Homo sapiens: one gene and its partners. The protein of the gene in region 1 interacts with the protein of each later gene in a biochemical or structural test. Each region holds a gene or a part of one and is shown in the gene's direction. Other genes may lie near its edges. The genes, in order: SYNJ2BP, ABCC4, KIT, RSBN1, ADRA1D, PRKD2 and ADGRA2.

Region 1 (3,500 bases):
TGTAGATTCTGGATATTAGCCCTTTGTCAGATGGATAGATTGCAAAAATTTTCTCCCATTTTGTAGGTTACCTGTCCACTCTGATGATAGTTTCTTTTGCTGAGCAAAAGCTCTTTAATTGATCCCATTTGTCAATTTTGGCTTTTGTGGCAATTGCTTTTGGGATATGTGGTCACCCTACTTATGCAAGATTTTTCTGGGCCATAGCCAATGATTAGCAAGATACGTATTGAATAGCCTTTCCCTTTCTGGTGGTTTCCAACTGACATCTGTTTCAATTGGTTGGTCCATATGCTGGATGATTGCCGCAGAGTTTAGATATCACACTTGCTAGAAACTACTCTTAAGGGGGATTTCTAGGTCACATGCCATAGACGTACTTAATAAGTTTGAGTTCCTGTTTATAGATGGGTGGAATTTTAAAATCTGTCTTCCCATTTTTTAGGAGATTTTGCATTTCTACTGTATATTTATTCATTCTTTCTCTGTCAAACTATCTAGTTTGGAGCTTTAGCAGCCATTAGTTTATTGACAACTACTCCTAGCGCCTTATCCCAATAGAGCAACTACTATGTAGTTTATGAAGATTTTTTTTCGTATTTTATGTTATTGGCCCCTAACACTTACCCATTGATGTAGACAGGGCAGAATTTATAATTCTTATTTTTGTAGAAAAGGAAGCTGAGGATCAGAGGTAAACTGACTTGCTTCAGTCCACATATCTGGTAAGTTATAAACTTAGAACCAAGTCTTCTGACTTTGATTTGCTTCTACAATATCTAAAAGGGACAGGGAAAAGGATAAATTTGGGTTTGTGGTTAAAATAGGAACTGTCCAGGTTAGCTTTATATCTTCCTCAGAGCATAACGTAATGCCTAACACATAGTAAATGTTGATTTGCTTCTGCAATATCTTAAAGGGACAGGAAAAAGGAAAAACTCCAGTTTGTGATCAAAGCAGGGAGTGTGCAGTTTAACTTTATGTCTTCCTCAGATGATAACACAACATCTTACACATAAGATTCAATCAGTAATTTTTACTGAGCAAGTGAACTGGGGATTATGTAGGTATCCGTACAGCCCAGGTTCAGTTGGTCATGCCACTACTTAATGCTGTGGTGACTCTTTTATTGCAGCAATGCTTTGGCTTATAGATACACCCAGTTCTGTAAATATTCTGGCTGAACAAAGGGCTTCAGGTCAGTCCAGGAGTTCTCATGTTAAATAGTTTGGTTCATTTACAACAGAAGTAGCAACGGGTTATAAATGTACCTATATAATATGACTTCGATGGGGTGTGTAGTAGACGGCTCTTTTTTGTTTATGGTAAATCTCGGTAAAATTTCTTCTACTCTTCCTTTTTTTTCTACAGTTAGCTTTGAATAACCAGTAGCAAAGTCCTTTCTGTTGCTAACTACTACATTGCATTCAGCTGCTTAACATTTGCTTCCTGTTCCCAAGATCACCAGAGGCAACTGTAGCATTTGATGAGGGTGTTGGATTTCATCAAAAGATTTTTCTACATAGTTTGTTCCAGCTTGGGAGAGGTGGGTTGGCCTTGGCCCCCTTGTTCAAAGCTGTCACAGTTTTGAAGTCATTTCAAAACCTTCGATAATCTTGTTCCATCTGCTTTTCCACCTTATCTTACATTTCTGTACCTTCTCCAATACTTCCTACCTTCTATGATACAAATTGAGGGTGCTCTAAGAAAATCATTTAGTAAGTTAAGCTACTATTTTTAATACCCAGCCCTTCAAGGAAGTTAAAATAGCATCTTCCAGAAGTAGCACCTTCTTATTTATTTTTTTAGAGAATAGGGTCTTGCTATGTTGCCCAGCCAGGTCACAAACTCCAGAAGTAGCACTTTCTATTATGTATATTATTTTAGAGAATAAATTCTTTCTATTATCTAGCTGCAGAGATTTTATGCACAAGGTATGCTTTTTATGTATTTTATTTTATTTTTGAGATGGGGGTCTCACTCTGTCACCCTGGCTGGAGTGCAGTGACACAATCTTGGCTCACTGCAACCTCTGCCTCCCAGGGTCAAATGATCCTCCTACCTCAGCCTCCCAATGTTGGTCATGTGCCACCACGCGTGTCTAATTTTTTGTATTTTTGGTAGAGACGGGGTTTCACCACGTTGCCCAGGCTGGTCTCGAACTCCTGAGCTCAAGTGATCCACCCACCTTGGCCTCCCAAAGTGCTGGGATTATAGGCGTGAGCCACCATGCCTGGCTAAGGTATGCTTTTTAACTTAAATGTTTCCTGTTGTGTCTTTGTTTGGTCATGTTTTTCTTTAAATTACAAATTGATTTGCTAGTGCTTATGTTAATACTGTGAGCTTCAGGTGTAAGCTTTTCTCCCACCAATGGGGAGAACTTTCAGAAAGCCCGCATATGTCTCTTTTTTATTTTTTTTTTTGAGATGGAGTCTTGCTCTGTCGCCCAGGCTGGAGTGCAGTGATGCAATCTCAGCTCACTGCAAACTCCACCTCCCGGGTTCACGCCATTCTCCTGCCTCAGCCTCCCGAGTAGCTGGGACTACAGGTGCCTGCCACCATGCCCAGGTGATTTTTTGTATTTTTAGTAGAGACAGGGTTTCACTGTGTTAGCCAAGATGGTCTCGATCTCCTGACCTTGTGATCCACCTGCCTTGGCCTCCCAAAGTGCTGGGATTACAGTCGTGAGCCACCGCGCCCGGCCCCCCGCATATGTCTCTTTAAGTATCTTTTCTATTGAGAACAGTGTAGGCTGGTGATTATGGTTATTCCTTCCAATTGCACCGCTAGATTTTTGGTTTGTTTCCAAACTATCTCCTTTGTCTTACACTGTGCCCCTGAATTCTACCAGTAGCTGACATTAAGAAAGCCCTAGAGAAGTTCCTTTTTCCTTTTTATTTTTTTATGCATAGGTAAAATCCTTTCCTAACAACGGTTTCTGTACAGTAAAATCCTTTCCAGCACTTAGTCATTGGTCCATAGAAATAGCACTTTGGTACTCAGTTTTCTTTCCTTCTCTTTTTTCTTTCTTTTAATATTTTGTTTTACTGTGGTAGGAACACTTAACGTGAGATCTACTCCGAACAGATTTTTCAGTGTATGATATAGTATTATCTGTAGGCACAATGTTGTACAGCAGATCTCTAGAACTTAATTCATCTTGCATAACTAAAATTATATGCATTTAAAATAGTTAAACTCATAAAAACAAATATTAGAATGGTGGTTTCCAAGGACTTAGGGAAGAGGAACTGGGGAGTTGCTAATCAACGAGTAGTCAGTTTTTTCTACAGTGAATAAAAGTTGTCAATTACTATGCCCAAGTATAGATTGAGTAGCCCAAATCCAAAAATCTGAAATTTGAAATGCTTCCAACTCCAAAATTTTTTAAGGGCCAACATGACGTTCAAAGGAAATGCTCATTGAAGCATTGCAGATTTCAGATTTTTGGATTAGGGATATTCAACTGGTAAGTTTAATTCAAATATTCCAAAATCCCC
Region 2 (3,500 bases), on another chromosome or scaffold:
ATGGAGTTTCACTCTTGTTGCCCAAGCTGGAGTGCAGTGGCGTGATCTCGGCTCATTGCAACCTCTGCCTCCGGAGTTCAAGCGATTCTCCTGTCTCAGCCTCCCAAATAGCTGGGACTACAGATGTGCGCCACCATGCTCAGCTAATTTTTTGTACTTTTAGGAGAGATGGGGTTTCAACATGTTGTCCAGGCTGGTCTTGAACTCCTGACCTCGGGTGATCCACCCACCTGGGCCTCCCAAAGTGCTGGGATTACAGGCGTGAGCCGCCATGCCCAGCCTGGACTATGTTTTCTACCCCAACCTTGTGGTCAGAGGTGACCATGAAACTGAGACCTGGCCAATAGGAAGTGGTTGCAAAAGGTGTCTCGCTTCCACGACTGGAACACAAAAACCAGCCCCATGCAACGCCTCTCCAGCTGAATAAAGAGGCCTCCTGGAGAGGAGGAGGACTGAGAGGAGGCCGAGCCGCAAGATGGTGAAAGTCCAGCTAGGAGTAAATGTATGGTGTTGTTCACCACCCTAGATGGCCCAAAAGGGGACTATAGCATGACAATAGGCATGGTCTTGGTTTCTTGTTTTCTTTTTTGAGACGGAGTCTATCTCTGTCTTGCAGGCTAGAGTGCAGTGGCGTGATCTCGGCTCACTGCAACCTCTGCCTCCCGGGTTCAAGCGATTCTCTTGCCTTAGCCTCCTCCCAAGTATCTGGGATTACAGGAGCTCAAAACCACGCCCGGATAATTTTTTATTTATTTATTTATTTTGTATTTTTAGTAGAGAAGGGGTTTTGCTGTGTTGGCCAGGCTGGTCTCCAACTCCTGACTTCATGTGATCCACTGCCTCGGCTGGTGATTTTGAATTAAGCCATTGAGAATCAGGGCTTGTTTAATAGCTAGCATTATTTGCACGATACAGTGGCTGCCTCCCTCATTGTGTGAGCTCTTTGAGAACAGGAATGGTACTTTATTGTAATGGATTTGCACCTGGCAAGAAAGAAGGCACCCTGCCTTCTTTCATGGTGGCACATGCCTGTAATCCCAGCTACTTGGGAGACCGAGCAGGAGAATCGCTTTAACCCAGGAGGTGGAGGCTGCAGTGAGCCAAGATTGCACCACTGCACTCCAGCCTGGGCTACAGAATGAGACTCTGTCTCAAAAAAAAAAAAAAGCAAAAGAAAACGTAGTCCAGGCTGGGTGCGGTGGCTTATGCCTGTAATCCCAGCACTTTGGGAGGCCGAGGCAGGTGGATCACAAGGTCAGGAGTTCAAGACCAGCCTGGCCAACGTAATGAAACCCCGTCTCTACTAAAAATACAAAAATTAGCTGGGCGTGGTGGCATGCACCTGTAGTCCCAGCTACTCGAGAGGCTGAGGCAGGAGAATTGCTTGAACCCGGGAGGCAGAAGTTGCAGTGAGCCAAGATCACGCCACTGCACTCCAGCCTGGGCAACAGAGCGAGACTCCATCTCAAAAAAACATAGTCCGTGTGTCCAGCAGTCGCTGCTGCAGGAGTTCATCCTGAACCCGTGTTGGGTGTGCTGGAGTAGAAGTATGGAAAAGCTGTGTGAGGGTGGGGATTTTGTTTTTGTTTTTGTTTTTTGAGATGGAGTCTCTGTCGCACAGGCTGGAGTGCAGTGGCATGATCTCGGCTCACTACAACCTCCGCCTCCCGGGCTCAAGCGATTCTCCTGCCGCAGCCTCCCAAGTAGCTGGGATTACAGATGTGCACCACCAGGCCTGGCTAATTTTTTTGTTGTTGTTAGAGACAGGGTTTTGCCATGTTGGCCAAGATGGAGATCTCTGGGGAGGGGTTTACCTTCCTGTTGGAGCTTGGATGGAGAAGGTGGGAAATCGTTCCTGGCAGGGGATGAGATGTCCAGGTCACAGAACTGCAGTTGGAGAAAGTGTTGCCTGAGACGTGTGGCGAATGACCACCCCTCAGTCGCTATGTCGTCCCTGCCAGCCGGTAGCGTTTGTTACACCCAAGGTTGCCCTCCCCTCTTTCATCCCAGCAGATGTTCAGACTTTGCTTCTCCCACTTCCAGCCCCTTACTCATGAGTACTTACAGCCCTTTTGTGGCCTGCGACGTAGCTCCTTGTTCCATTTCTGGGTTCCATGACCACTTCCGTGCTGGTCTGTTTCAGGCCTAGTCCCTGTCTGCTCTTTTCTCTGCGCTAGCTCCTATCTTCCCCTTTTCCTTAGTGTCATAGAATTAGTGGGTTGAAAGGAAGAGATCTTCTAGCCCACACTCAGTACAGGAATCCCTTCCAGATACTGGGCAGTGGGGAAATGCATTATGTGACTCTCATGACTTTAGATTCGAATGCCAGAATTATGTTGTATTGAGCCACAGTTTTCTTTCCATGCAATTTCTACTTGTGTTTACTTACTTCTAAGAAAAGCATTACAGAATTTAATGAAGCAAAGAATGATCTGTGAATCAAGCAGCTCCTAGAACCAAAATAGGTTCAGAGCCGCTCTCCTTTGTTTTTTTGTCAACACGCAGAGCAAGTTGGCTACCTCCCTTCATATGCTCGCCTCATAGTATTCAAAGACAGCTATCATGGCCACATTAAATCTTTGTTTCTTTGTTTGAGACAGGGTGTCACTCTGTCACCCAGGCTGGATTGCAGTGGTGCGATCTCAGTTCACTGCAACTTTCACCTCCTGGGCTCAAGCCATCCTTCCACCTCAGCCCCCTGAGTAGCTGGGACCACAGGTGTGTGCCAGCATGCCCAGCTAATTTTTTATATTTTTTGTAGAGATGAAGTTTTGCCATGTTGCCCTGGCTGGTATTGAACTCCTGGGCTCAAGTGATCCTCCCGCCCTAGCCTCCAAAAGTGCTGGGATTACAGGCATGCGCCATGGTGCCTGGACAGGAGTTTATTTTTGACCCTGTTAAGTTTGAGATGCCTGCTACACATTCAAGTGGAGATGTTGAATAGGCATTCAATTGGTCATGAGTTTGGGGCTCATGGAGAAGTTTATCTTATTATTATTATTTCTTTAAATGGAGTTTCACTGTGTTGCCCAGGCTGGCGTGCAGTGGTATGATCTTGGCTCACTGCAACCTCCACCTTCTGGTTCAAGCAATTCTCGTGCCTCAGCCTCCCGAGTAGCTGGGATTACAGGCACGCGCCACCACACCCAGCTAATACTTGTATTTTAGTAGAGATGGAGTTTCATCATGTTGGCCAATGTGGTCAGGAAGTTTATGTCAATTTGGGCATCATCAGTGATACATGCAGTTGAGCTATATTGGACACATGGCCAATTGACCTCACAGTCCGCAGGGCTTGTCCCCATGTAACTGCTCTTCTATCCCTATGCAAATTCATTTTGTAGATGCTAACGTTTAGCAGCTCATTGTTGCTGTTGAAAGTTCTTGGAACACTTTCGTAGTCTGAATGCTAGAAAGGATGGGTCCTAGGAATGTCCTCTAGGTTGTGGCAGATCCACTAATCAACACTGTGGTTGCTAGATTAACTTGGCCACAAGTGT
Region 3 (3,500 bases), on another chromosome or scaffold:
TTGTCTTTCTTTCATCTTGTCTCCTGGGGCTCATTTAGAGAGTTTGAGGTAATACGGGATACCATATTTGGCTCTCTGTCTCCCATTAAATTCATTGTGTCAAGAGACGGGAAATTTCTAACCTGAGTCCTCTATATGATTATACACAAAAAGGACACCTAGTTTCTGGGCATGGACCCCAATATCGATTATTAAAAACTCATTTCTTACAGAACAGGATTTTCAAACTCTTTATTCAAACTTTACATGACTTTCCTCAAATTGGTCCAGTCTATTATGTAGCAAAGGGGATGAGGAGGTAGAGCATGACCCATGAGTGCCCTTCTACATGTCCCACTTGATTCAGTCATGACTTGTTTCATCTCTCCCAGCAGCGATAGTACTAATGAGTACATGGACATGAAACCTGGAGTTTCTTATGTTGTCCCAACCAAGGCCGACAAAAGGAGATCTGTGAGAATAGGTGAGTACCTACCTATCAAGCAACCAAGAGTAACTTTACAGAGAGTATGTATATCATGCTAATGTGGAATATAACATCATTCCCAGTAGCAATGATGCAGACCAGTTCTGCTTTATGGTAGCAGTGCCAATGGTCAATGGCAGTTAGGGTTGCAAGTGGGTGTTTGGGGTCAGAGCATATGTTTTTGTGCCTGAGTATCTTTCTATAGATATGGGATCTTTGCTTTAATTCGCCATCCCTCTCCTCTATGGATTTTGTAACCCAGCCTAGGATTGTTAAATATTAACTTTGTGATTCAGCATCTACCTTTCCTGGACACCAGGGAAGTGATCTGCCTGCAAGTTCACATTAGTTCATTCATTACCAGCCTTTGGTATGTCATTGCCACTGTCTTTTCCTTTCCTGACCTTTATGGTTGTAATTGCTAAGAAAAATCCTCTCTTCCTCACAGGCTCATACATAGAAAGAGATGTGACTCCCGCCATCATGGAGGATGACGAGTTGGCCCTAGACTTAGAAGACTTGCTGAGCTTTTCTTACCAGGTGGCAAAGGGCATGGCTTTCCTCGCCTCCAAGAATGTAAGTGGGAGTGATTCTCTAAAGAGTTTTGTGTTTTGTTTTTTTGATTTTTTTTTTTTTTTTTTTTTTTTTGAGAACAGAGCATTTTAGAGCCATAGTTAAAATGCAGAATGTCATTTTGAAGTGTGGTAACCAAAAGCAGAGGAAATTTAGTTTCTTCATGTTCCAACTGCTGTCTCTTTGGAATTCCTGTTCTAATTTATAAGCTGTAAAGTACAAGCCTGTCTAAATGAGTTTTTCTATGAATATTCTTTTATATGCAGTGAAATTCTTTTAAAACTTTTGGCTTTTAGGATATAGGATATGTTCCTAGAGAACAGAATCATTTTATCAGTAAAAGCAGAGGGCACCTCATAGTTACAAGGCTTGGGGTGAAGCATAGACTTGAGTTTTATTGAAGTTAGATCCAAATATTATATGTGTGGCTTATGAAGTGTCAGGAAATAAGGGGTCAGAGGGAGTAATAAACACTTGGGAGAAGGTTAGGAATGGAAAGAATGATGGAACCAAAACAAGGAGCATGGTCTGTGGAAGGGTGAAAGGAGTTCCTTAGGAAGTAAGATTAACCGAACAGAATGAGTTACCAGTCCTACCCTTAAATGTCATGGGTGACATTTCCCAACAATTACCAAACTAAGAAAGGATATAAGATGGCTGAAATAAAGACCTTCTTCCGTGTGTCCTTGGGAGATGTCAGATTGAATTTGCAAAGGCATATTAGGAACTCTGTGAAAGGACATTCAAAGAGATGCATGCAAAATGAATTTTCAGTTTAAACAATATGATATGACTATTTCTTATGTATTTCCCTATGAATGAAAGCAGTCCTGAGAAGAAAACAGCATTTATTAGAATTGCTTTTAAAAGAGATTATAATAATTAGACTCTTGATTATGTGAACATCATTCAAGGCGTACTTTTGATTTTTATTTTTGGTGTACTGAATACTTTAAAACAAAAGTATTGGATTTTTTATAATATAAGCAACACTATAGTATTAAAAAGTTAGTTTTCACTCTTTACAAGTTAAAATGAATTTAAATGGTTTTCTTTTCTCCTCCAACCTAATAGTGTATTCACAGAGACTTGGCAGCCAGAAATATCCTCCTTACTCATGGTCGGATCACAAAGATTTGTGATTTTGGTCTAGCCAGAGACATCAAGAATGATTCTAATTATGTGGTTAAAGGAAACGTGAGTACCCATTCTCTGCTTGACAGTCCTGCAAAGGATTTTTAGTTTCAACTTTCGATAAAAATTGTTTCCTGTGATTTTCATAATGTAAATCCTGTCTAGGGATATCACACATTTTAGCAGTCAAATTAAGTATACTTCAGCAAAATTTGCATGGTATGCTGAACATTACTACAACTAACATTCAATAATAGAAGTCCTAATTCTAATTGTGTAATTTTGGGGCATGTGAAGGAAACAGAAATAGCCTTAATTTTCATTATAGCCTGAGAATAGCAATGAACTTGATTTTGCTCAAGTGTAACAAATGTAGGTCATTGAAGGTCACAGCAGGAGAAATTTTGGGGGGATTGGCATGCCGTGTGAAAAATATTAAAATCTAAGATCATATTCAGAGTTAGCCATATAGAATGTTGGATCCTAGAATACACGGAGAGCTATTAAATAGGTTCATAAGTAATAATGGGTTTGTAGAACATAGCAAATGTTTTTCAAAGTGCTGTATTTCCTTGCCAATTTTTATTGAATCCTCAGAACAAACCCTTGTCCTATAATTGCAGCACCTTCCTATTTTAAAAGTTGGAGAAACTAAGGCATGGCATATTTTAGTGCTTTTTATCTGAGGTGACACAGGACAATAGAGGCTGAAACTAGAGCCTGTGATTTCCAGAGTGGCATCCCATCGCCATGGAAAACCATATTGCCCTTTATAATATTCTCTGCCTGTCTTCCTGGGCCCATTTCTGCAGTCCAGATTTATTCCTGGAGGTGGATTTTTGTGCCCCTTATGATAATGTAATGTTTTCCCCCCATCACTGTGGCGTCTCTATTGGTAGCCTGTACTCGATTTGGTTTTGTAAGAGTGTTTCTGTGTTTATCTCCTGGCCAAAGCATGAATTTCTGAAAAGGCTGCCCTGAAGCTAGATATTATCATCAGGAGTGATAATAAAAACAACTTCTCTTCATCCTGGTGCAATTTTGGAAGGAAGAATGATAAGTCGTTAATTATCCAGTCCTCTGAATATTGACCAAAGGGAGGAGGAAGAAGGTGGCCGCCTCCAGGCCCAGTCTTGATGAATTCTGCAATCTGTCTCCATTATTTCATGCCTGTGTAATTTTGTCAAGAGTTGTCCAATACCTCTGAATCTTTGTTTTTCTCCCCTTGGGAATAATAGTGATTCCTGACTCAGAAAGTTATGAGTTAATATATGTAAAGTGCTTATGACAGTGCCAGACATATTGTTACTATTCTTTATAGATGTCT
Region 4 (3,500 bases), on another chromosome or scaffold:
ACATAGTTTGACTGATATCTTTTTTGTCCTCTGAACATCTTTATTGTTACAGTGGTATGCAGGAGGCATGCCTCTGGTATTAATCTGAGTTTAAATCATGGCTCTAACACTTACTGTGTGAGCCTGAACAAATTGCTTTACCCTCTCTCAACTGCACTTTTCCTGTCTATAAAATGGGGTTGTGGTATTTCATTTATAAGGAACTTGTGTGGATTAAATAGGGCATTGTGTGAAAGTACTTACAGCAGTGCCTGGCTCATTGTAGGCACTTACTTAAAACCGGCCTTTATTATTTTATTATGCATGGTCCCTAAAACAACTCTAAGATTAATAAGGAGAGTGGGCAGATTCTTGTTACTTACAAAGCTATGTCCTTCCTTCGCTTATCCTCAGATTTTTGGAAACTATTTTAACTGTTTTTTTTTTTTAGATAATTAATGATTCACAGGAAATTGCAAACATAGTCAAGTCCTTACCTTTTACCAGTTTCCCTCAGTGGCTACATCTTACATAACTATTGTATAATATCAACACCAGGAAATTGACATTGGTACAATGTATATGTAGTTATATGCTATTTTATCATATGTAGATTAGTGTAACCACCACTACAATCAAGATACAGAACTGTTCCACCACCACAAACCCTTTACAGCCTTAGGCACTCCCTCTGTCTCTCTACTGTCCCTGTCCTCTGGCAGCCACTAACCTGTTTTGTCATTTTGAGACTATTATATAAGTTGAATCATACAGTATGTGATCTTTGGAGATTGCCCTTTTTCACTCAGTGTGATGTCCCTGAGATCCATCCCTCTTTTTCATTGCCGAATAGTGTTCCATGGTATGGATGTACCATGGTTCACCTATTGAATCATTCCCGTATAAGAAAGGACATTTTGATTATTTCTAGTTTTTGGCTATTATAGATAGAGCTTCTATGAAAATTGGTGTTCAGGTTTTTGTGTGCATGTAACTTTTCATTTCTTTGGTCGTATGGTAAATACAATTAGCCCTCTGTATCCATGGGTTCCACATCAATGGATTCAGCCAACCTGGGATTGAAAATATTTTCAAAAAAACATTGTCTGTACTGGACTTGTGCAGACTTTTTTTTTCTTGTCACTGTTCCCTAAACAATACAGTATAACAATTATTTATATAGCATGTACATTGTATTAGGTATAAATAATCTGGAGATGATTTAAAATATAGGGGAGGATGTGCATAGGTTATAAGCAATTATTATGCCATTTTATATGAAGGACTTGATCATCTTGGATTTTGTTGCCCTGGGAGGCTCTGGAACCAATCCTCCATGGATACCAAGGATGACTATATATATTTATTTTGTTTGTTTGTTTTTTAAGATACTGCCAAAGTATTTTCTGGAGTGTCGGTACCATTTTACATTCCTGTCAGCGGTGTAAGAGAAATCCATTTTCTCCACATTCTTGCCAGTATCTGGTATTGTCACTATTTTTATTTTAGCAATTTTAATAGACGTGTGGTGATACATCATCATGATCTTAATTTGCATTTCCCAAATGGCTAGTGATAATACACATCTTTTCATATCATCATTTGCTGTCTATATATCCTGGTCAGTAAAATGTCTCTTTATACCTTTTGCCTATTTTCTAATTGAATTTTGTGTGTGTGTGTGTGTGTGTGTGTGTATACATATACATATATATATATATATAATTTTTTTTTTTGAGACAGAATTTCACTCTTGTTGCCCAGGCTGGAGAGCAATGGTGCAATCTCGGCTCACTGCAACCTCTGCCTCCCGGGTTCAAGCGATTCTCCTGCCTCAGCCTCCCGAATCGCTGGGATTACAGGTGCCTGCCACCACACCCAGCTACTTTTTTATATTTTTAGTAGAGACGGGGTTTCACTGTGTTGGCCAGGCTGTTCTCGAACTCCTGACCTCAGGTGATCCACCCGCCTCAGCCTCCCAAAGTGCTGGGATTTCAGGCGTGAGCCACTGCGCCCGGCCCTTGAATTGTATATTTTTTATTACTGGGTTTTGATAATTTTTTGTAGATCACAGGTGCAGCTTCTTTGTATGGTTTGCACATATTTTCTCCCAATCTGTTGCTTGTCTTTCCATCCTTTTTGTTTGTTTGCTTGTTTTTATTTTGGTTGTTTTTTTTTTTTTTTGAGATGGATTCTCACTTTGTCACCCAGGCTGGAGTGTAGTAGCACGATCCTGGCTCACTGCAACCTCCACCTCTTGGGTTCAGGCGATTCTCCTATGTCAGCCTCCCGAGTAGCTGTGATTACAGGCATCTGCCACCATGCCCGGCTAATTTTTGTGTTTTTCAGTAGAGACGGGGTTTCGCCATATTGGTCAGGCTGGTCTTGAACTCCTGACCTCAGGTGATCCGCCCGCCTTGGTCTCCCAAAGTGCTGGGATTACAGGCATGAGCCACCACGCCCAGCCTGTTTGTTTTTGTTTTTTTGGGGAGGGTCTCACTCAGTTACCCAGGCTGCAGCACAGTGATGTGATCATGGCTCACTCTAGCCTCAACCTCTGGGGCTCAAGTGATCCTCCCACCTCAACCTCCTGAGTAGCTGAGACCACACGTGTGCACCACCACACCTGGCTAATGTTTTTTTTTTTTTTTTTTTTTTTGATAGAGGCAGGGTCTCTCTGTGTTGTCCAGGCTGGTCTCAAACTCCTGGGCTTAAGTGATCCTCCCGCCTTGGCCTACCAAAGTGTTGGGATTACAGACAGGAGCCACTGTGCCTGGTCCTTTCTACCTTCTCAGTGGGATACTTCACAGAGCAAAAATTTTAAATTTTGTTGATATCCAATTTACTAAGTTTTTTTTTTTCTTTAATGGATCATGTTTTTGGCATCATATCTAACATACCAAGTCCTAGATCCCAAAGATTTTCTCCTTTGTTTTCTTCTAAAAGTTTTATAATTTTAACTTTTGTATTTTAATCTGTCATCCATTTGAGTTAATTTTGTACAGGTGTGAGGTTTAGGTCGCCATTTTTTTTCTTCTTGCCTAAGGATATCCAGTTGCTCTAGCACCTTTTGTTGAAAAGATTAATCTTCCATTGAATTGCTTTTGCACTTTTTTCAAAAATCAGTACAACCTGTAATGTAACAATGATTTTTTTTTTTTTTTTGAGACAGAGTCTCGCTCTGTGCCAGGCTGGAGTGCAGTGGTGTGATCTCAGCTCAGTGCAACCTCCACCTCCTGGGTTCATGGGAATCTTATGCCTCAGCCTCCTGAGTAGCTGGGATTACAGGCGCCCACCACCACACCCAGCTAATTTTGTATTTTTAGTAGAGATGGGGTTTCACCATGTTGGCCAGACTGGTCTCAAACTCCTGACCTCAGGTGATGTGCCTCCCACAAGTGCTGGGATTACAGGCATGAGCCACTGTGCCTGGCCTAACAATGGTTTTTACAATTTAAAATAGTTGGAACGACCTTGTAGCGCATGGAAATCATACGAAATTTAAACTGTGTCCAGAAATA
Region 5 (3,500 bases), on another chromosome or scaffold:
GGGCAGATCACCGAGCATCACTGACCTCCACCTTCCAAATGCCATCCACTCAAAGCAGCCCGGAGACTCAGAGCCCAGGGCCCCCCTCAAATGCACCTCAAGGCATACAAGCTGGGCAGAGGCTCTGATATCAGAAGTCCCAGGACAGCCCAGCCAATGTCCCACTCCAGCCATCTGTGAGCCACACCTGAGCCTCTCTCCTATCTTGTGAGTCTGTGCTCTGTGATAGTGCCTGTGTCGCTGACCACCCCCAGACTTAGATGTCCCATGTGCTTCTGAAACACTCTGCATGTACTTTTATCACGATGCACTGTAACTGTCAATATTCAGATATGCATCATGAAGTGTGAGGGCAAAGGGAACTACACACACGTAGGCACAGGAGTAGCAGTATTGCTGGGTTGCTCTGTGGTTTGGGAGACGTAAAACGTGTAGCCTATGAGAAGAGGGGTCAAGAGATGAGGCCAGATGCCATCTGCAGGAGAATGGATAAATAAACCATGTATCCATAGACTGGACCACGGTACAAGGAAAAATAGCAAACTACTGATGCACACATGGATGAATTTCATGGATGTTATACTGCGCAAAATAAGCCAGGTCTGAAACTCAAGGTGTACACACCTTTTGATTCTGTGTAGATGAAGTTCAAAAACAGGGGAAACTTATCAATGGTGATAAAATCCAGGATAGCGGTTACCCATCTGTGTGTGTGCAGTGAGTGTACTAACTGGAAGAGAATGCTAGAAAACTTTCTGAAGGGCTGGGACAGTTCCATACCTTGACCTGGGTAGTGATGACATTGGTGCATGCATATGCAGAGCCATCAGGCTGTGCTGTGTGCTTCAGATACACACGCTTTCTAAATTTGACTGTCTACATGTTATGCCTTTGTTACAGTGAGAGAGAAGGCAGGAGGAGGCAGGGGGGAGGCTGTGAGCCCTGCTTAGTAATTGGTGTCCAGGCTGGAAGGCATACTTTGGTGGCCCCGTGCGGAGAGTGGATTATGCATATGTCTGAGAGTCGGCCAGGTGCTAAAGGACTCATCTCCACAGGCTGCCTGAGGTTGTGCAGGGGTCTGTGGATGAAGGGGAGAGGCAAGGGATGCTTTGTGCTAGGTCTTCAGTAATGGCATCATTGTCTCCCGGCCCAAAAGCCTGAAGAAAGGGCTGGCATTACATCTCCTACCTGTGCTTTGTGGCACCTGGAACATAATAGGTGCTCAGTAAATGTGTGCAGAAGAAGGAAACGGTAGAACCCATGTTCTATTCCCATCCTGCCACACCAAGGGTCTGGGTGGCAAAGCACAGCCCTCCATTTATTTATTATTTTAATTTTCTTTTATTGTGGCAAGAGCATATAGCATGAGCTCTACCCTCTTAACACACTTTTAAGTGTAAATATCATATCATTAACTACATATCATTAACTATGGATACATATCATGTGATACTGTTGCACATCAGACCCCTAGAACTCATCTATCTTGCCAAACTGAAACTTTATGCCCATTGATTAGCAATTCCCAATTTCCTAGCGCCCTTTCTCCCTGGAAACCACCATCCCACTCTTTGAGTCTACGCATTTGAGTATTTTAGAGACCCCCATGTAAGTGGAATCATGCAGTATTTCTCCTTCTGTGACTGGCTTATTTCGCTTAGCATAACAGCCCTCTATTTAAAGTCAACTCTCTTTACTTGTTGTGGGTTGGGGGTGAGTCCCCATTTTTGTGGCCTAAAAAAAAAATCTTTAACAGGACAGTTAATATTTATTGAGTAATTACTATGAATAAGCAATGAGCTAGGGTTGGGTTTTTTTCATGTTTTTAACATGGAAAGTTTCAAACACATACATTGATAGAGAGAACCCTGTTAGTATAATGAACCCCTGTGTACCTGTGACCCAGCTTCACCCCAAAGCTAACCTAGATTCTTTCCATCCTCACCCACTGTCCCATCACTGTAGATTCTTTTGGATTTTTGTTTGTTTGTTTTTTGAGATGGAGTCTCTCTGTCTCCCAGTCTGGAGTGCAGTGGCGCAATCTCAGCTTACCGCAACCTCCACCTCCCGGGTTCAAGTGATTCTCGTGCCTCAACCTCCCAAGAAGCTGGGATTATAGGTGTGCACCACCATGCCCAGCTAATTTTTGTATTTTTAGTAGAGACGGGGTTTCACCATGTTGGTCAGGCTGATATCAAACTCCTGACCTCAGGTGATCCACCCACCTCGGCCTCCCAAAGTGCTGGGATTACAGGCATGAACCACTGCACCCGGCCACTGTAGATTATTTTGAAGAACATCCAGATACAGTATCCCTTCATCTGTAAATCCTTCAATATATAGTTCTAGAAGATAATAACTGTAAAAAAAAAAAAAAAAAGCCCACAATCCATTATAACACATAAAATCATTTAATATCATCAAATATCTACTTAGTGTTGAAATGTTGCTGGCTGCCTCGTAAATTTTTGGTTGGTTTGTTTGAAGCAGAATCCACAGAAGGAGCACACGTTGCATATGGTCGATTTGCCTATTAGGTTTCTTTACTCGGTAAGCCTCCACTGCTTTTTTTTCTTTCCATTTATTTAGTGAAGACACCAGATTGTCCCCAGGTGTATCCTGTAGTTTGGAGTTTGCATCTCCACAGTGCCATTTAATGTGTCCCTCTGTTCCCTGTACTTCCTGGGTGCAGATTTGGCCTGGAAAGAATTCTTCTTTTCTGTGGTGTCAAGATTGACCAGAATTCATGTGCTGTCAGCCTGCTCTGTCCATTACAAAGTGACCCATCGGCCTTTCACCTGCTGGTTTTGGCAGCCATTGACCATGGCCTGGACCCATTATATCACTGGGGCTTGAAGTGGGGATATTCTAATCCTATCATACCTCCTTCATTTATTCACTAGCATTCTAAAATGATTTCACCACTAGCTGTTTGGTTAAATAGAATCTGTACAGCAAAGGCAGGGAAGATGTTCAATATTCCTCTTTATTTATCAGAGGAAGAGTCAGTTCTCTAGCATTCTTTCCAGACGTGACCACTGAGGCTGTTTGAGTACCATGGTAATGTCATTATTTTTAGACATCCTTGCTGTTCCAACACATCACAGACATCATTGTTTTGGGCTTGGCCAGTGGGTACTCCTTCCAGTTGGCTTCTGAGATCTTTGGCAGAACCTGGAGCATCTTGAGCTCTTCTTTGCTTTCTGATCTGATAAGATGCTTCAGGCTCAGCTTGCATTTTTTCTGCCCTAGACCTGGAATTAGCCATTTCCCTAAAGAGCCCTAGTCTGTTTCAATGGAAGATGACTGAGCTGTTCATTGATACTGAGTTGGTCACTGATTCAATGGACAGATCTAGGAAGTACATTTTATTTTCAGTAGAAGAAAAACACAACACTGATGGGGACTTCTGTCCTTGGACATATATTCCTCCTTCCCCTCCCCTGAAGATCTTGTCCTCTGCCCAGCTCCTGCTGATATGTTTGTCCCAAACATCTGAG
Region 6 (2,649 bases), on another chromosome or scaffold:
TTCCTTGGCCTCCCAAAGTGCTGAGATTGCAGGCATGAGCCACCACGCCCCAATCATGTATATTTTGAGGCTATTAAAAAAAATCTGCATTATTCAAAAGAGGAAACAGCGACCCATTGGAGGTGGCAGAGGTATAGCAGCAGCTAGCATTTATTGTGCACCAACTGAATGCCAAATATTGTCCTGTGGGCTTTGGATGGTTTAATTCACTAACCATCATGGCAGTCCTCTGAGATAGGTGCTCTTCTGCTCTTCTTCCTATAGATGGGGAAACTGAGGCACAGAGGGGGGAAGTCACCTGCCCAGGGTTGCTCAGCTAGTGAGCCAAGGAGCCTGGATTCAAACCAGCATCCAGCTTTCTCTGGAATACCATGGAGGGTGGTGTGGTGGGGATGCTGGGGTGGGTGCGGCTCCATCACCTGGTGGAGCCTCCATCCCTTGCCCTCTGCAGGTGAAGCTGTGTGACTTTGGCTTTGCTCGCATCATCGGCGAGAAGTCGTTCCGCCGCTCAGTGGTGGGCACGCCGGCCTACCTGGCACCCGAGGTGCTGCTCAACCAGGGCTACAACCGCTCGCTGGACATGTGGTCAGTGGGCGTGATCATGTACGTCAGCCTCAGCGGCACCTTCCCTTTCAACGAGGATGAGGACATCAATGACCAGATCCAGAACGCCGCCTTCATGTACCCGGCCAGCCCCTGGAGCCACATCTCAGCTGGAGGTGCCTGGGGCCCGCCTACCCCATGGGCGGGTGGGTTGTGGGGTGGGGCTGGAGAAGTGGGCGGAGCCATGAGAGGGGGGTGGACCCGGAAACAGCCTGGCACCTTGGGGGTGGAGCCCAGTGCTGGGGCGGGCCTACTGGAGGGATGTGGCTACAGGAGGAGCCGTCCTGTAAAAGATGGGCTGGGACTCAGGCCTAGACTAGGTTACTTGGGCTGGAAACCAAGTGCCCCAGAAGCGCTGAGGACACTTGGAACCTTAGGGGGGCTGAGTGAGACTTGGCTTGTCTAGGGTGGGACCAGGAAAGGGACTGGACTTGAGGGTACCAAAGGGCTGCGGTGACCAGGAGAAGGGGCTGAGCCTCCCAAGGCATTGGCTGGGACCTGGAGCCTTTGGGTTTACGACCCCAAAAGGGTCAGCCTTGCAAAAAGGAGGCACCGGTGGGTAGGGTTGAGAAACAAGGGCATGGCTACTTTGCTGTGTACTGGGGCCGTGACTTGGGTGAAGATGGGCCTGAAGCCTGGGGTCGGTTCAGTGACCAAGGGAGCCAGTCTAGGGACGTGGCCGTGGAGGGTTTCCGAAGAGGTCCAGGAACAGGGCTGACCCTGAGTCCTGGAAGCTGGGAGTGGATGGGAGTGGGGAGGAGAAGGGAGCCAGGACTGAGGCAGACATTGCACTCTGCATTCTGGGGCTTTGGTGTTGTGGCTGGGCCTGATGAAGTGGCACCGGGCCTGGTGACTTGAACCTACTTGGGAATGGGTCTGTAACTTTCCCTGCTTGGAAAAGTTAAGTCCTAAGGCCTGGAGCTTTGAGGCTGGGTGTGGGATGGCATGTTTAGAGGGCCAGAGGCAGGGCTAAGATACTGGGGTGTGTCAGAAGCCAGGAGAACAAGGGACCTGTGTTGGAGCCAGGGAGCTCAGGAAGACAGATGGAGTATGGGAAGGGGGGGGATCATTCATTCATTTATTTATAACCATTTATTCAACAAGTACATTCATGTATTTGTAACCATTGATTCAACATGTTGAGTGCCCACGATGTGCCAGGCATTGACTGTTCCAGCTCTGGGAATACTGTGATGACTTGGACAGAAGGGGTCAGGTGCAGGGTAGCTCATTGAGTGGTCCGCGAAGGGTGGAAAGGGGAAGGGTCCTCTCTGGAGGGTGCGGCTTCATGGAGCAGGTGGAGCAGGGTGACACGGAGGTTGCTCGGTGCAGGACAAGACAAGGTCTTGGTGGTGGTCTAAGAGCATGGGCCCTAAGCAGTGAGAATGTGGATTGACTTGAGTCCTGGAGTAATATTGGGGGTGCTCAACACTGGCTTTTTTTTTTTTTTTGAGGTGGGGTCTCGCTCTTTCACCCACGCTGGAGTGCAGTGGCGTGATCTCGGCTCACTGCAACCTCCACCTCTTGGGTTCAAGGGATTCTCCTGCCTCAGCCTCCCGAGTAACTGGGATTACAGGCACACAGCACCATGCCTGGCTCATGTTTTATATTTTTAGTAGAGACAGGGTTTCGCCATGTTAGCCAGGCTGGTCTTGAACTCCTGACCTCAAGTTATTTGCCCGCTTCAGCCTCCCAAAGTGCTGGGATTGCAGGCATAAGCCATCACACCCCGCCAGCATTGTCTTTTGAGACCCACTCAGAAGTCCCTCAGTAAAAGTGCATCGAGTGTGCACAAGTGAATTTAAGTGTGGTTGCACCTGTGTGAGGATCACAGAATCCTGTGGGTGTTGACGGGAGCAGGGTGCCTGTGTGCACCAGGCCTCTCCTCGGATGGGTTCATACAGTGAAGCCTTGTCCTTCATGGCTTCCCATCAAGGAGAGAGCCTCGGATGAGTGCTGGCTTGTCTTGAAGCTTGACATTCGCTAGTCCTCTTTTTCACAATGAACAGGCCTATCTCTGAGCCTTCTGCAGGCAATGGTGACTAA
Region 7 (3,500 bases), on another chromosome or scaffold:
CAAGGGTGACTCACGAGCCAGCTCCACCTGCCACCCGCAGTGAGCTGACGCTGTCTCACATCGGCGTGTGGGCCTCAGGCGAGTGGGAGTGCACCGTGTCCATGGCCCAAGGCAACGCCAGCAAGAAGGTGGAGATCGTGGTGCTGGAGACCTCTGCCTCCTACTGCCCCGCCGAGCGTGTTGCCAACAACCGCGGGGACTTCAGGTTTGGCCCACTCCACCCTGTAGAGGGCTGCCCAGCCCCCAACCCCACCCTTGCACCTGACATCACAGGTGGCCAGAGTTTCCCCATCCGCTGTCTCTGTTGGGTCCTAAAGATGGAGAAGACACTTCCTTTTGTCATTCAGCCTGAAGCCTTGCTATCGAATAGATAGACTTTATGTATAAACTTACCATCTGAGGCCGGGTGCAGTGGCTCACGCCTACAATCCCAGCACTTTGGAAGGCCAAGGCAGGCTGATCATCTGAGGTCAGGAGATCAGCCTGGCCAACATGGCAAAACCCCATCTCTACCAAAAAGCACAAAAATCAGCCAGGCATGGTGGTGCGTGCCTGTAATCCCAACTACTCAGGAGGCTGAGGCAGGAGAATCGCTTGAACCCAGGAGGCGGAGGTTGCAGTGAGCCAAGATCACACCATTGCACTCCAGCCTCAGCCTAGGAGACAAGAGCAAGACTCCATCTCAAAAACAAACAAACAAACAAAATTACCATCTGAGATGTGCTGCAGAAAAAGACTTTTTTTTTTTTGAGAGAGAGTCTCACTCTGGAGTGCAATGGCATGATCTTGTTGCCTCAGCCTCCCCGGTAGCTGGCCTGTGCCACCATGCCCAGCTAATTTTTGTATTTTCAGTAGAGATAGGGTTTCACCATGTTGGCCAGGCTGGTCTCGAACTCCTGGCCTCAAGTGATCCACCCGCCTTGGCCTCCCGAAGTGCCAGGATTACAGGCTTGAGCCACTGCGACTTTTTTTTAGACAGGGTCTTGCTCTTTCATCCAGGCTCCAGTGCAGTGGCACAATCATACCTCACTGCAGTCTCGAATTCCTGGGCTCAAGCAATCCTCCCACCTCCGCCTCCCAAGGAGCTGGGACTACAGGCGCAGACACTATGCCTAGCTTATTGTGTTATCTTCTGTAGAGACAGGGTCTCACTTTGTTGCCCAGGCTGGTCTCAAACCCCTGGGCTCAAGCACTGTGCCTGGCCACAAAAAGGCTTTTATTTGCTTCCTTATATTCATAGTTTGCAAAAGCTCACCCACAAAGAGTATCACCTTTTAAGATCCCAGTGACCCTCTCTGTTATGCAGGGAAGCTATTATTCTCCCCACTGTACAGCTGAGAATACTGAGGCCGAGAAAGGATAAATACCTTGCCTTAAGCCATAGCAAATAAGTGGCAGAACTTGAATTTAAACTCAGAACTCTGAAGTCCAGCCCCCTATCGCCTGTGATAGCCCGGTCAGAACAAAGAGAGTGGAACTTGGGAACCCCTGGAAGGCTGGTCTGAACCCCGCTCCTGGATCCCTCCCCAAGGCCCCAAGGAGTCCGGCCTCACCGTTCTAAAGTCGGGAGAAGGGCTGTTGTTCTGAGAAGCCCGGTTCATCGGCAACTTCCTGCCTCTCCCCCCAGGTGGCCCCGAACTCTGGCTGGCATCACAGCCTACCAGTCCTGCCTGCAGTATCCCTTCACCTCAGTGCCCCTGGGCGGGGGTGCCCCGGGCACCCGAGCCTCCCGCCGGTGTGACCGTGCCGGCCGCTGGGAGCCAGGGGACTACTCCCACTGTCTCTACACCAACGACATCACCAGGGTGCTGTACACCTTCGTGCTGGTGAGGAGAGGCTAGGGCACCCCACCAGCTCTGCTTCGGGGGCACAGGGAAGGGAGAAGCCAACCTAACGGGCAAGGGGAGCCCTATCTCCGGGCCGCTGGGCTGTGCCTCCTGTTCCTGCCTGTGCAGAGCCAGGAGCCGGCTCCTCTCCTCCAGCCGCCCTCTGCTATTCAGACCCACTGAGGCCACAGTGGGGAAGGGCACCAGTCCTCTGTCCCCATCTGGCCACCTCACGCCCCTTTACTCACCAACGCCAAAAGCAGAGTCCCACTGTCCTTACACCAGGGGTGCTGGCAGTGGTGGCCTTGGGCTGTGATGGTCTCAGCCTCCTCTGCCCTCCTAGCTTGATGAGACCCAGAAGGTAGGCTGGACTCCTGTCCCCAGGCACTGAGCACTGGCACAGAGCAGAGGGTCCCCAGGGGCAGTTCGGGGGCAGAAGGAACAGGCGAGATGATCCTCTCTCTTCCCCCAATCCCCAGATGCCCATCAATGCCTCCAATGCGCTGACCCTGGCTCACCAGCTGCGCGTGTACACAGCCGAGGCCGCTAGCTTTTCAGACATGATGGATGTAGTCTATGTGGCTCAGATGATCCAGAAATTTTTGGGTTATGTCGACCAGATCAAAGAGGTGAGACTCAGCTGGAACTCAGGAGCTCGGAAAACGCCCCCATCCCTCATTTGCTCAAGCCTCTCTCTCACTCCAGCTCCTGGGTCCCAAACCCCGCCCCTGCCCTCAGCAACTTCCCTGTCCCCCCAGCTGGTAGAGGTGATGGTGGACATGGCCAGCAACCTGATGCTGGTGGACGAGCACCTGCTGTGGCTGGCCCAGCGCGAGGACAAGGCCTGCAGCCGCATCGTGGGTGCCCTGGAGCGCATTGGGGGGGCCGCCCTCAGCCCCCATGCCCAGCACATCTCAGTGGTAATGGGGGTCAGCAGAGGGGGTGGCCCTGGCATGCAGAGGAGGGAGGCGCTCCCTCTCAGGCGTGCACCTGCCGTGCCCCAGCTAGCAAGAGCAGCAGACGTGACAAAGTTCTGAGCCATGGGGTTCACTTCCAAGTTGTCAGGGGCAGTGCTAAGGAGAGGTGGCCGGTGACCCTGGAGAAGTGATGCCAGACTCCGTGGTGGGGAACTGAGCCAAAGGGCCAGCCTGATGGGAATAAGCAGGAGGAAGAGTGAAAGGAGTAGAAGGGATGGGAGGAAGGCTTGGTGGCAGGGCAGACAGCACTCGGGATTGAGTGAAGAGTAATGGAAGTTCCCTGAGAGAAGGTGAGTGCTCCAATCTGATAACAACCACAGTACAGCATCGTGTATGTTCAAGATATTGTGCTAGGCCCTTGGGGCGATGCAAAGGGGTGAGACATGGAGCCTGCTCTACAGCTGAGTCGGGCAACAGAACTGGCATACTTAAGAGGTGAGCAAGAAGCCTGTAATCCCAGCACGTTGGGAGGCCGATACAGGAGGATCTCCCAAGGCCAGGAGTTGGAGACCAGCCTGGGCAACAGAGAGACCTGGTCTCCACAAAAAATACAAAAATTACCCAGGAGTGTTGGCATGCGCCTGTGGTCCCAGCTACTCGGGAGGCCAAGGTGGGAGGATCACTTGAGGCCTGGAATTTGAGACTAGCCTGGGCAACATGGTGAAACCCCATCTCTAAAAAAAAGTTTTTAATTAGA

Evidence for each region.
Region 2: the proteins of SYNJ2BP (region 1) and ABCC4 interact in a test that uses a peptide from one of them, tested with the Homo sapiens proteins (one large-scale study listed by IntAct).
Region 3: the proteins of SYNJ2BP (region 1) and KIT interact in a test that uses a peptide from one of them, tested with the Homo sapiens proteins (one large-scale study listed by IntAct).
Region 4: the proteins of SYNJ2BP (region 1) and RSBN1 interact in a test that uses a peptide from one of them, tested with the Homo sapiens proteins (one large-scale study listed by IntAct).
Region 5: the proteins of SYNJ2BP (region 1) and ADRA1D interact in a test that uses a peptide from one of them, tested with the Homo sapiens proteins (one large-scale study listed by IntAct).
Region 6: the proteins of SYNJ2BP (region 1) and PRKD2 interact in a test that uses a peptide from one of them, tested with the Homo sapiens proteins (one large-scale study listed by IntAct).
Region 7: the proteins of SYNJ2BP (region 1) and ADGRA2 interact in a test that uses a peptide from one of them, tested with the Homo sapiens proteins (one large-scale study listed by IntAct).

The regions. Positions count from the first base shown.
Region 1 is NC_000014.9:70,389,591-70,393,090, reverse strand, and holds part of SYNJ2BP (synaptojanin-2-binding protein), read left to right. Parts: intron 1-3,500. UniProt on the Homo sapiens protein: Regulates endocytosis of activin type 2 receptor kinases through the Ral/RALBP1-dependent pathway and may be involved in suppression of activin-induced signal transduction.
Region 2 is NC_000013.11:95,291,452-95,294,951, reverse strand, and holds part of ABCC4 (ATP-binding cassette sub-family C member 4), read left to right. Parts: intron 1-3,500. UniProt on the Homo sapiens protein: ATP-dependent transporter of the ATP-binding cassette (ABC) family that actively extrudes physiological compounds and xenobiotics from cells.
Region 3 is NC_000004.12:54,730,957-54,734,456, forward strand, and holds part of KIT (mast/stem cell growth factor receptor Kit isoform 1 precursor), read left to right. Parts: intron 1-371; coding exon 372-463; intron 464-914; coding exon 915-1,042; intron 1,043-2,113; coding exon 2,114-2,236; intron 2,237-3,500. UniProt on the Homo sapiens protein: Tyrosine-protein kinase that acts as a cell-surface receptor for the cytokine KITLG/SCF and plays an essential role in the regulation of cell survival and proliferation, hematopoiesis, stem cell maintenance, gametogenesis, mast cell development, migration and function, and in melanogenesis.
Region 4 is NC_000001.11:113,805,977-113,809,476, reverse strand, and holds part of RSBN1 (lysine-specific demethylase 9), read left to right. Parts: intron 1-3,500. UniProt on the Homo sapiens protein: Histone demethylase that specifically demethylates dimethylated 'Lys-20' of histone H4 (H4K20me2), thereby modulating chromosome architecture.
Region 5 is NC_000020.11:4,239,288-4,242,787, reverse strand, and holds part of ADRA1D (alpha-1D adrenergic receptor), read left to right. Parts: intron 1-3,500. UniProt on the Homo sapiens protein: This alpha-adrenergic receptor mediates its effect through the influx of extracellular calcium.
Region 6 is NC_000019.10:46,676,466-46,679,114, reverse strand, and holds part of PRKD2 (serine/threonine-protein kinase D2), read left to right. Parts: intron 1-451; coding exon 452-719; intron 720-1,658; exon of another isoform or gene 1,659-1,975; intron 1,976-2,649.
Region 7 is NC_000008.11:37,831,383-37,834,882, forward strand, and holds part of ADGRA2 (adhesion G protein-coupled receptor A2 precursor), read left to right. Parts: intron 1-40; coding exon 41-205; intron 206-1,627; coding exon 1,628-1,826; intron 1,827-2,305; coding exon 2,306-2,455; intron 2,456-2,584; coding exon 2,585-2,746; intron 2,747-3,500.